2 linked regions of the Homo sapiens genome follow. The protein of the gene in region 2 purifies or fractionates together with the protein of the main gene of each other region. This does not show direct contact. Each region holds a gene or a part of one and is shown on either strand. Other genes may lie near its edges. The genes, in order: VAMP7 and TMEM106B.

What was found.
Region 1: the proteins of TMEM106B (region 2) and VAMP7 purify together in Homo sapiens (affinity purification with mass spectrometry; one large-scale study listed by BioGRID and IntAct). This does not show direct contact.

Annotation. Positions count from the first base shown.
Region 1 is NC_000023.11:155,884,308-155,888,131, reverse strand, and holds part of VAMP7 (vesicle-associated membrane protein 7), read right to left. Parts: intron 1-3,824. UniProt on the Homo sapiens protein: Involved in the targeting and/or fusion of transport vesicles to their target membrane during transport of proteins from the early endosome to the lysosome. Required for heterotypic fusion of late endosomes with lysosomes and homotypic lysosomal fusion.
Region 2 is NC_000007.14:12,214,059-12,217,882, reverse strand, and holds part of TMEM106B (transmembrane protein 106B), read right to left. Parts: intron 3,683-3,824; exon of another isoform or gene 3,489-3,682; intron 3,075-3,488; 5' UTR 3,073-3,074; coding exon 2,856-3,072; intron 1-2,855. UniProt on the Homo sapiens protein: In neurons, involved in the transport of late endosomes/lysosomes. May be involved in dendrite morphogenesis and maintenance by regulating lysosomal trafficking.

The sequences.
Region 1 (3,824 bases), on a different chromosome or scaffold from region 2:
TTCATTCCTACTCTCTAACTGAAGTTGTTCCCCAGGGTTGTGATCTCAACCATCTTCTTTCTAGAATTCTCCTTACACATATGCAGTAAGTTATAGTTTCCAAATTGCTGTCTTATACTTTATCTCCCTTGATCCTAAAGCCTCCCTAACTGTGGATCCTACTGTTCTGTTTCTTTTCTTTTTTTTTTTTTTTTGAGACAGGGTCTTGCTCTGTCACCCAAGCTCCAGGCTAGAGTGCAGTGGCACAATCTTGGCTCACTACAGCCTCCACTTATCAGGCTCAAGTGATCCTCCTACCTCAGCCTCTGGAGTATCTGGGACTACAGGTGTGTGCCACCATGTCCGGCTATTTTTGTATTTTTTTTTGTACAGACAGGGTTTCACCATGTCACCCAGGCTGGTCTTGAACTCCCGGGCTCAAGTGATCCACCTGCCTTGGCCTCCCAAAGTGCTGGGATTACAGGCATGAGCCACCGTACCTGGCCCTGTTCTGTTTCTTCAAAGCATCGTTACGCATTATCTCTGCTCCTCTGCCTCCTTTCAACTCTTCTACTTACTATAATCCAGCTTTTGCCCTTAAAACTCCAGAAAACCATGCTTCCTAAGGTCACCAACAGCCTCTATATTGCAAAATACAGTGGTTGCTTCTCTATTCTTACCTTACTTGACCTCTTAGGCACAGTCAACACTGCTGACCGACCCTCCTTCTTGAAATGCTCCTACATCTCTGGCTGCTCTTTTTGTCTTCTTGCTGACTCTTCCTCCTCTACCTGACCTCTAAATGTCGACTTTCCTCCGGGACTGATTCTGTGCCCTTTTATTCCCAGATGAGCTCAGTTAGATCTGCCATTTTAAACATGATTTATTTGCTGAAGATATATTGCATACAGAAAAAAAAAATAGTGCCAAAGATAAAACCCAAAGCACAACCAACAGTTGAGGGAAAGGTAGATAAATAGAGACTCACAAAGACTGAGGAGGACCAAATGGGAAAGCCAAAAGTGTGGTGGCCCAGAAGCCGAAAGGAAAGAAAGAGAATGAAGACTGTAAAACAATCAGTGAAATTTTATAACAAGGAAGGAGGTCATTGCTTAGGGTCAAAGAGACACAGTAGAGAGGAACAAAAACACAAAGAGAAACAGAGATAAGAAATCATATGGTCCCTGGAACAGAGAGATGAAAAAGTAGCAGCAGCCTCAGTCCCTGTGCAGGTTCAGAAGGAAACTTGACCTTGGCAACAATTAATACAAAAAGATCTAGTGTTTCAGTGGACTGTAAGTTCATTATGAACCAACGGTATGCGATATTGCTTAAAAATGCTTACATAATCTCAAAGTACATTAAGAAATAGGGTGTCTTGACCTGTTTAAGTACTAGTCCCATTACACTCTGTGCTGGTTAGAACATATGTAAAATACTGAATTCAATTCTGGGTAGAATATTTAACGACTAGACAAAAGGGAGGCAATACAATATGGGTGAGAGACATGGAGATTGTGTCATCTGAAGACTGGCTGGAGGAACTAGAGATATGTAACATGAGAAAGAGAGGACTTAGAGGGAACATGACAATAGTTTTTGAGTTTATATAAAGTACAGTCACCTGGAACAGGGAGCACATTATTCAGAATATAACTAGGAACAATGAATATAAGTTATACGCAAGTAGTGTTTCTTCCAATAAAAGCAGTCCCCAACTTAAAAATGACTGTTAAACAGTGGGTACATAGCAACAGAAACTTTACTTTCCTTCCAGATGTCACTAATAGGAATTCCTTCCTCTCTGCTATACTGCTAAAAATCCCACCTATGAAGTCTTACCTGCCCCCATTGTAAGTGTCTTGTAATAGAATCCATAACGTCTTGATGAGTATTGGGATAACAGAAACAATTGTGGCACAATGAACACTGCACTTGAAGTTAGAAAACCTGGCTCTGCTAATTATTAGCAGTATGTAAATGCCTAATAAACCATAAAGTGCTATATAAAGATAAGATCCAAGAAGAAAAAGAATGAAAAGATAAGCCAGAGAGAGAAGGGAAGAAAAAAAGATAATGCAACATAAAGGAAAGCCCCATATCAACACTGTTCCTCTTTGTTCTCCTATTCACTCCCCACTTGGTCCCACAGCCACCATCCCAATTCTACTTTATTCCTGCTAAGAATCCTGTATTAGTTTCTTGTAGCTGCAGTAATAAAGTACCAAAAACTTGGTTGCTTAAAACAACAGAAATGTATCGCCTACCAGTTCTGAGGGTTAAAAGTCCAAAATCAAGATGTTGGCAGGGTTATGCTCCCTCTGAAACCTGTAGAAGAGAATCTTTCCTTATCTCTTTCTAGCTTCTGATAGTTTGGTGGCAATCCTTGGTGTTCCTTGGCTTGGAGGTGCAGCACTTCAATCTTTACCTCTGTAGTCACATGGTGTTCTCTGTATCTGTGTCTTCACACTGCATTCTCTCTGTCTCTCTTCTTTTATATGGATGCCAGTCATATTGGATAAAGGGCCCACTCTACTCCAGTATGACCCCATTTTCAATTACATCTTAATTACATCTGCAAAGATCCTATTTCTAAATAAGATCCCATTCACAGGTACCACGGGTTAGGACTTCAACACAGCTTTCTGGAGGACACAATTCAACCCACAACAAACCCCCATTTTAAACTGATACTACACCTGATCTTAGCCAAAAGGCTGACAAGCAATGCAAACTTCCATTTTAGAAACTCACTGTTCATCCCAAATAAATCCTACCCTTCCCTTTCCAGATACTCATATCACCCAACTTGCCTCCCTCTCTAAAACCTCTGTCCCTTCGTTTTCCTTGCTCATATTGGAGGACTGTCCTTAGAGCTAAGGGCTAGAAGGGTCACCCACAACAGTTTGGAGTTAGAAAAGCCTGTTTTTACTATGTTAAGGGACTAAAGAAAGGATATTTTTGTTCTAGTTGTTGGGTTTCTAAAAAAAGATATGCTATAAGGGAATTCAAATGAGAATTATAAATGCAGTTTTTTAATAGAGGAATTATTGTAAATTGTGGGGAAGGTCTTCGAGTCCACTAAATTAAAAGTTAATAAAATGATACTGGTTGGCATAACAGTGTAAATGTCATGGATAGCATTATTTATAGAAGGAAATGCATCCAGCGTTCCAAACAATAAGCTTACAACAGTACTTTTAGAATATATCCATTTGTAAGTAAGAAATTGCCTGTATTAAAAAATTTGGTAATAACATAGAACAGCAATGATGAAAATGCTCCTCCTCAGCAGAAGCATCTTCAAGTAGAGGCTGAAGACAGTTTCAGGTAACTGAGTAAGGGGAAAGGCCAAGTCCATGTGTTTTGAGAAATCTTTTAATTCTGCATTTGTATTTTGATAACACTGAAAAATGTATAAGAATATTCTGGATCATCTACATGTGTATCTTATAAACGAGCAATGGCACACAATTCAGTGCTGCACTTGCATTCCTGTCTATAAAGAAATAGGTGTCAATAAATCACCTAAAATAACAATGCTTAATGTTTACATCTTAGAAGTATCTGGCTGATCTTAGGTTGGCACATCCTAAATTCACGACAGTCATGACTCAAGCACTCTTGTACTGCTGTTGTTTTTAATCAGTTATAAAGACAAAATTTGTCTTTTGCAGTAATGATTTACAATTGAAAGATACCTGCATGGAATAAGACTTTAATTTTGGCTGGGCGCAGTGGTTCATGCCTGTAATCCCAGCACTTTGGGAGGCTGAGGCGGGCGGATCACCCAAGGTCAGGAGTTCGAGACCAGCCTGACCAACATGGAGAAACCCCGTTTCTAC
Region 2 (3,824 bases):
GAGCTATATCCATAAGTTTAAAGGATAAATGGACCTTTAAATGCCAATTTTATAATCTTATTAGAAGTTGGCTTATCATATTAACTATTAAGGTATCAGATAGTCAAGTTCTCTTTAAAAGCTTTCTAAAATGCTTCTGTTATTTCCCCCGACACATCTATACTCTTCCTCTCATCTGTGCTCCCCCATCACACCCATATATAATTATACAAATACATATAACATGGATATCTGTATCTTTGTGTGTTTACATATCTCACCTTGTTTAGTGGTATTCATCTGGCTAAAACTACAACCCTGGTTAAAACCAACCCTCTGGCTCCTATGCATATATCAACAGAGCTAAACATGGACACAGAAAAACACACAACTACACTCACTGGTTTCATTTTTGATCACTCATGTCAAGTAGCACTTAATGATGTCAACAATCATACTACATTTCCCAAGTTCATACTCTCAAGCTGACTCTCCAAGACCACAATTTTATAACTTCAACTCTCTTCAAATCTTTAATATCTTCTTCGCTATCCTCATTCTTAGTTCATTATGTGATAAATGGAAGATAATTTCTACAAGCTTCTATTATCAGATCTATCCACCTACCTGCTTCTGTGTCCATACTTTACCTTCTCTTTTATTACCAAGAATAAACCACCTGTGCTTATAACTTACCTTTTATAGAAAAAAAGAGCAGCTCTTTGTTCTTGTGCAGTAGATCTGCCCTTCTGTCTATTCAAGAACATTGCTCCAATAATTCTCTTATCTCCCGAATTACCAATGTTTTCTCTACAGATAATTCTCATCAGTATACAACTGTCTATTATTCACTCTATCTTACAAAGAAAAAAAAAAATCCCTCTCCTGACCTCACAGCCCCTTCTAATGACTACCTCTCTTCTCTCTGCTATGGAGCCAAACCCCTCAGAAAATCTATTTTCTCTCTATGTAACATCTCCTATGCACTCTTGAGCCCACTCTATACATGCTACACGTCTTTACCAAAACCGCTCTTTTAAACTCTTCTGTGGCCTCCATATAACCAAATCCAATGGCCAGTTCTCAGTCTTCACACTACCCAATCTATCAGTAGCATATGACAGTTGGTCACTCTTTCCTCCTTGGTACACTTTCTTCACTTATCTTCCATGATACCACACACAATGATTTCCTCCTCTCATTCTAACTTTTCTTTCTCAGGGTCCTTTGTTAATTCTTTCACTGACCTTGATATGCTACAGTGTCTCAGGATTCGCTAGGGTCTCATTTTTGCCATCTGCACTGACTAGCTTGCTGCTGTCATCCAGCTGAGCTTTAAGTGTCATCTATACATTGGTAACTTGAGGCTGGGCGCTGCAATTGAATTCCTGACCCTTATGATAACTAACTGCCTAATGAACATATCCACTTCCACGTCAAATAGGCATCTCCAAATATCCATGTCTAAACTTGAGCTCCTGAACTCTCCTGTGACATATACACTCAAATAATCTTTTTTTTTTCAATTTTAATAAATTGCTACTACATTCTTTCAGTTGCTCAAACAAACCCCCCCAAAAAAACTCTGGAGTCATCCTTGATTTCCTACTTTCCATAATCTGTATCCAGGCGGCCAAAAAAGTTTACTGGTCATACCTCAAAAATGTAACCAGACTGCTAAAACAGTACTCCCCTACCCCCTGAGCCTGGTGCATTAATCCCTTCAACTACAATAATTATTTTATTCTTAAATAGCTACTATCCTTGTGAAAATAAAACCATCATACTCAAAGGCCAACGCAAATGTAAACTTCAATTCAAACCCACAGCATTTTAAGATACATTTTAAGCATCTTAAAAAGGTACACAAAGTATACTTTATACTTTGACCTTCTTCCCTCTGGGTATCTCCAGGGTCACACATCAACTTTCACCAAGAAGATAATGAGAACAGCATAAAGTATCTTTATTATTTCTACTTATTGCCACTGTTCCTAAAGTAGCTTACAAGCAGCACACAGGGGATTATTTCCTTCTGACGTCCCCTATGATATATCACAAACAATTTTTTTTTTTCAATTTGGCTCATTTTCACGTACCATCCCTCTTCACAGAGTTTCTTTAACTCATTAGGGCACAGCCAGCTTATTCTTCTTCTTTAGATAATGAATTAAAAATATTAGGTTGGCCAGGCGTGGTGGCTCACAGCTGTAATTCTAACACTTTGGGAGGCCAAGGCTGGATGATCGCTTGAGCCCAAGAATTCGACATCATCCTGGGAAACATGGGGAAACTCCATCCTTATTATTAAAAAAATAAAATTTTAAAAATAACATGAAAGAATAAGCTTCCTTACACATTAACTCTGGCTGGGCATGGTGGCTTACTGCTATAATCCTAGCACTCTGGGAAGCCGAGGTGGGAGGATTGCTTGAGGACAGGAGTTCAAGACCAGCCTGGCCAACAATTGCGAGATCTCATCTCTTAAAAAAAAAAAAAAAATAGGTCAACAAATTACTTAAATTGCTTCTAACATCTGATATAGCAAAGTAGCAAGTAACTATGATGTCATCTCTACAGATGCCAAATAGGACTAAAAGTTTTCATTTACAAGACAGTGAATATCTGCTATAATAGCAGGTGGGAATGAAAAAATACTGGAGGTAGTGAGGTGGTTTTCTTTACTGCTTTAGGAACCTTAATTAATACTTTATTTGTTTCTTTTGCATCTTTTTGACTGAAGGTAACTGATATGATGTTTCAACTTTAATTCTAAGAGTCCTCTAAAACAGGTGGTTCCTGAGACCCACAGTTTTTATAATACTTGAGCAAATACCTAAAATCATTTAAAGGGAAAACAATACAATAACACATACCCCTAGGAATTCTTCCTGTTCCCTGACAAGTAGGGCAGGTGACACTATCTCTTCCTGTAAATTCCACATATGGAAACTGAGAGACATCTCCATTTCTTCCATCTTCATTATGGACTTCACTATTAACCAGTCCATTCCTCATGTTTTCAGATGTGACTCCATCATAAGCATCTTCTTTGCTTGAATGCAAAGGCAAATGAGAAAGAGACTTTCCCATGTCTAAAGAAAAATAAAAATCTTACAGTAAACTTCAGGGAAAAAAGTACATTCAAGAACACTCTGAGATATTTACACTAATTAATTTAGAACAGTCAAGGAACAGTCAAACTCTGTAAAATATTTGAAGGGATTTATTCGGAGCCAAAAATGAGTGAACAAGGCCTGAGGCACAGTCTCAACAGGTCCTGAGAAAATGTCCTCAAGGTAGTTGGGTTACAGCTTGATTATACATTTTGGAGACAGAAATTACAGGCAGAGGCATAAATCAATAGATGTAAGGTATACATTAATTCAGCCCAGAAAAGCAGGACATTTTGAAGCAGGGGTGGAAGGCTGGGGGGTGTCCAGGTCATAGGTGCATAGGTGGATTTAAAGATTTCCTAATGGCAATTGGTTGAAACGGTTAAACTCTACCTGAGGAGTTGAAGTCAGCAGAAAGAAATGTTTGTAGTTAAGACAAGGGAGGAGGATGTGGAAGCCAAGGTTCTGATTATCTAGATGATGCCTCCAGGTAGCAGGCTTCAGAGAGAATAGTTTGTAAATGTCTCTTATTACTCCTTAAAATATTCCAGGCTCTTGGTTAAATCGCTGCTGAATTAGGAAAAGATCTGGAAAGGAAAGGGGATTCTGTACAGAATGTGGATCTTCCCCACGAGAGACAGCTTTGCAAGGCCATTTCAAAGAAATATATTTTGGGGTAAGATATTTCAATTTCTCTCAGGGCCTGCTATCTGTCGAGTGATTCTATAT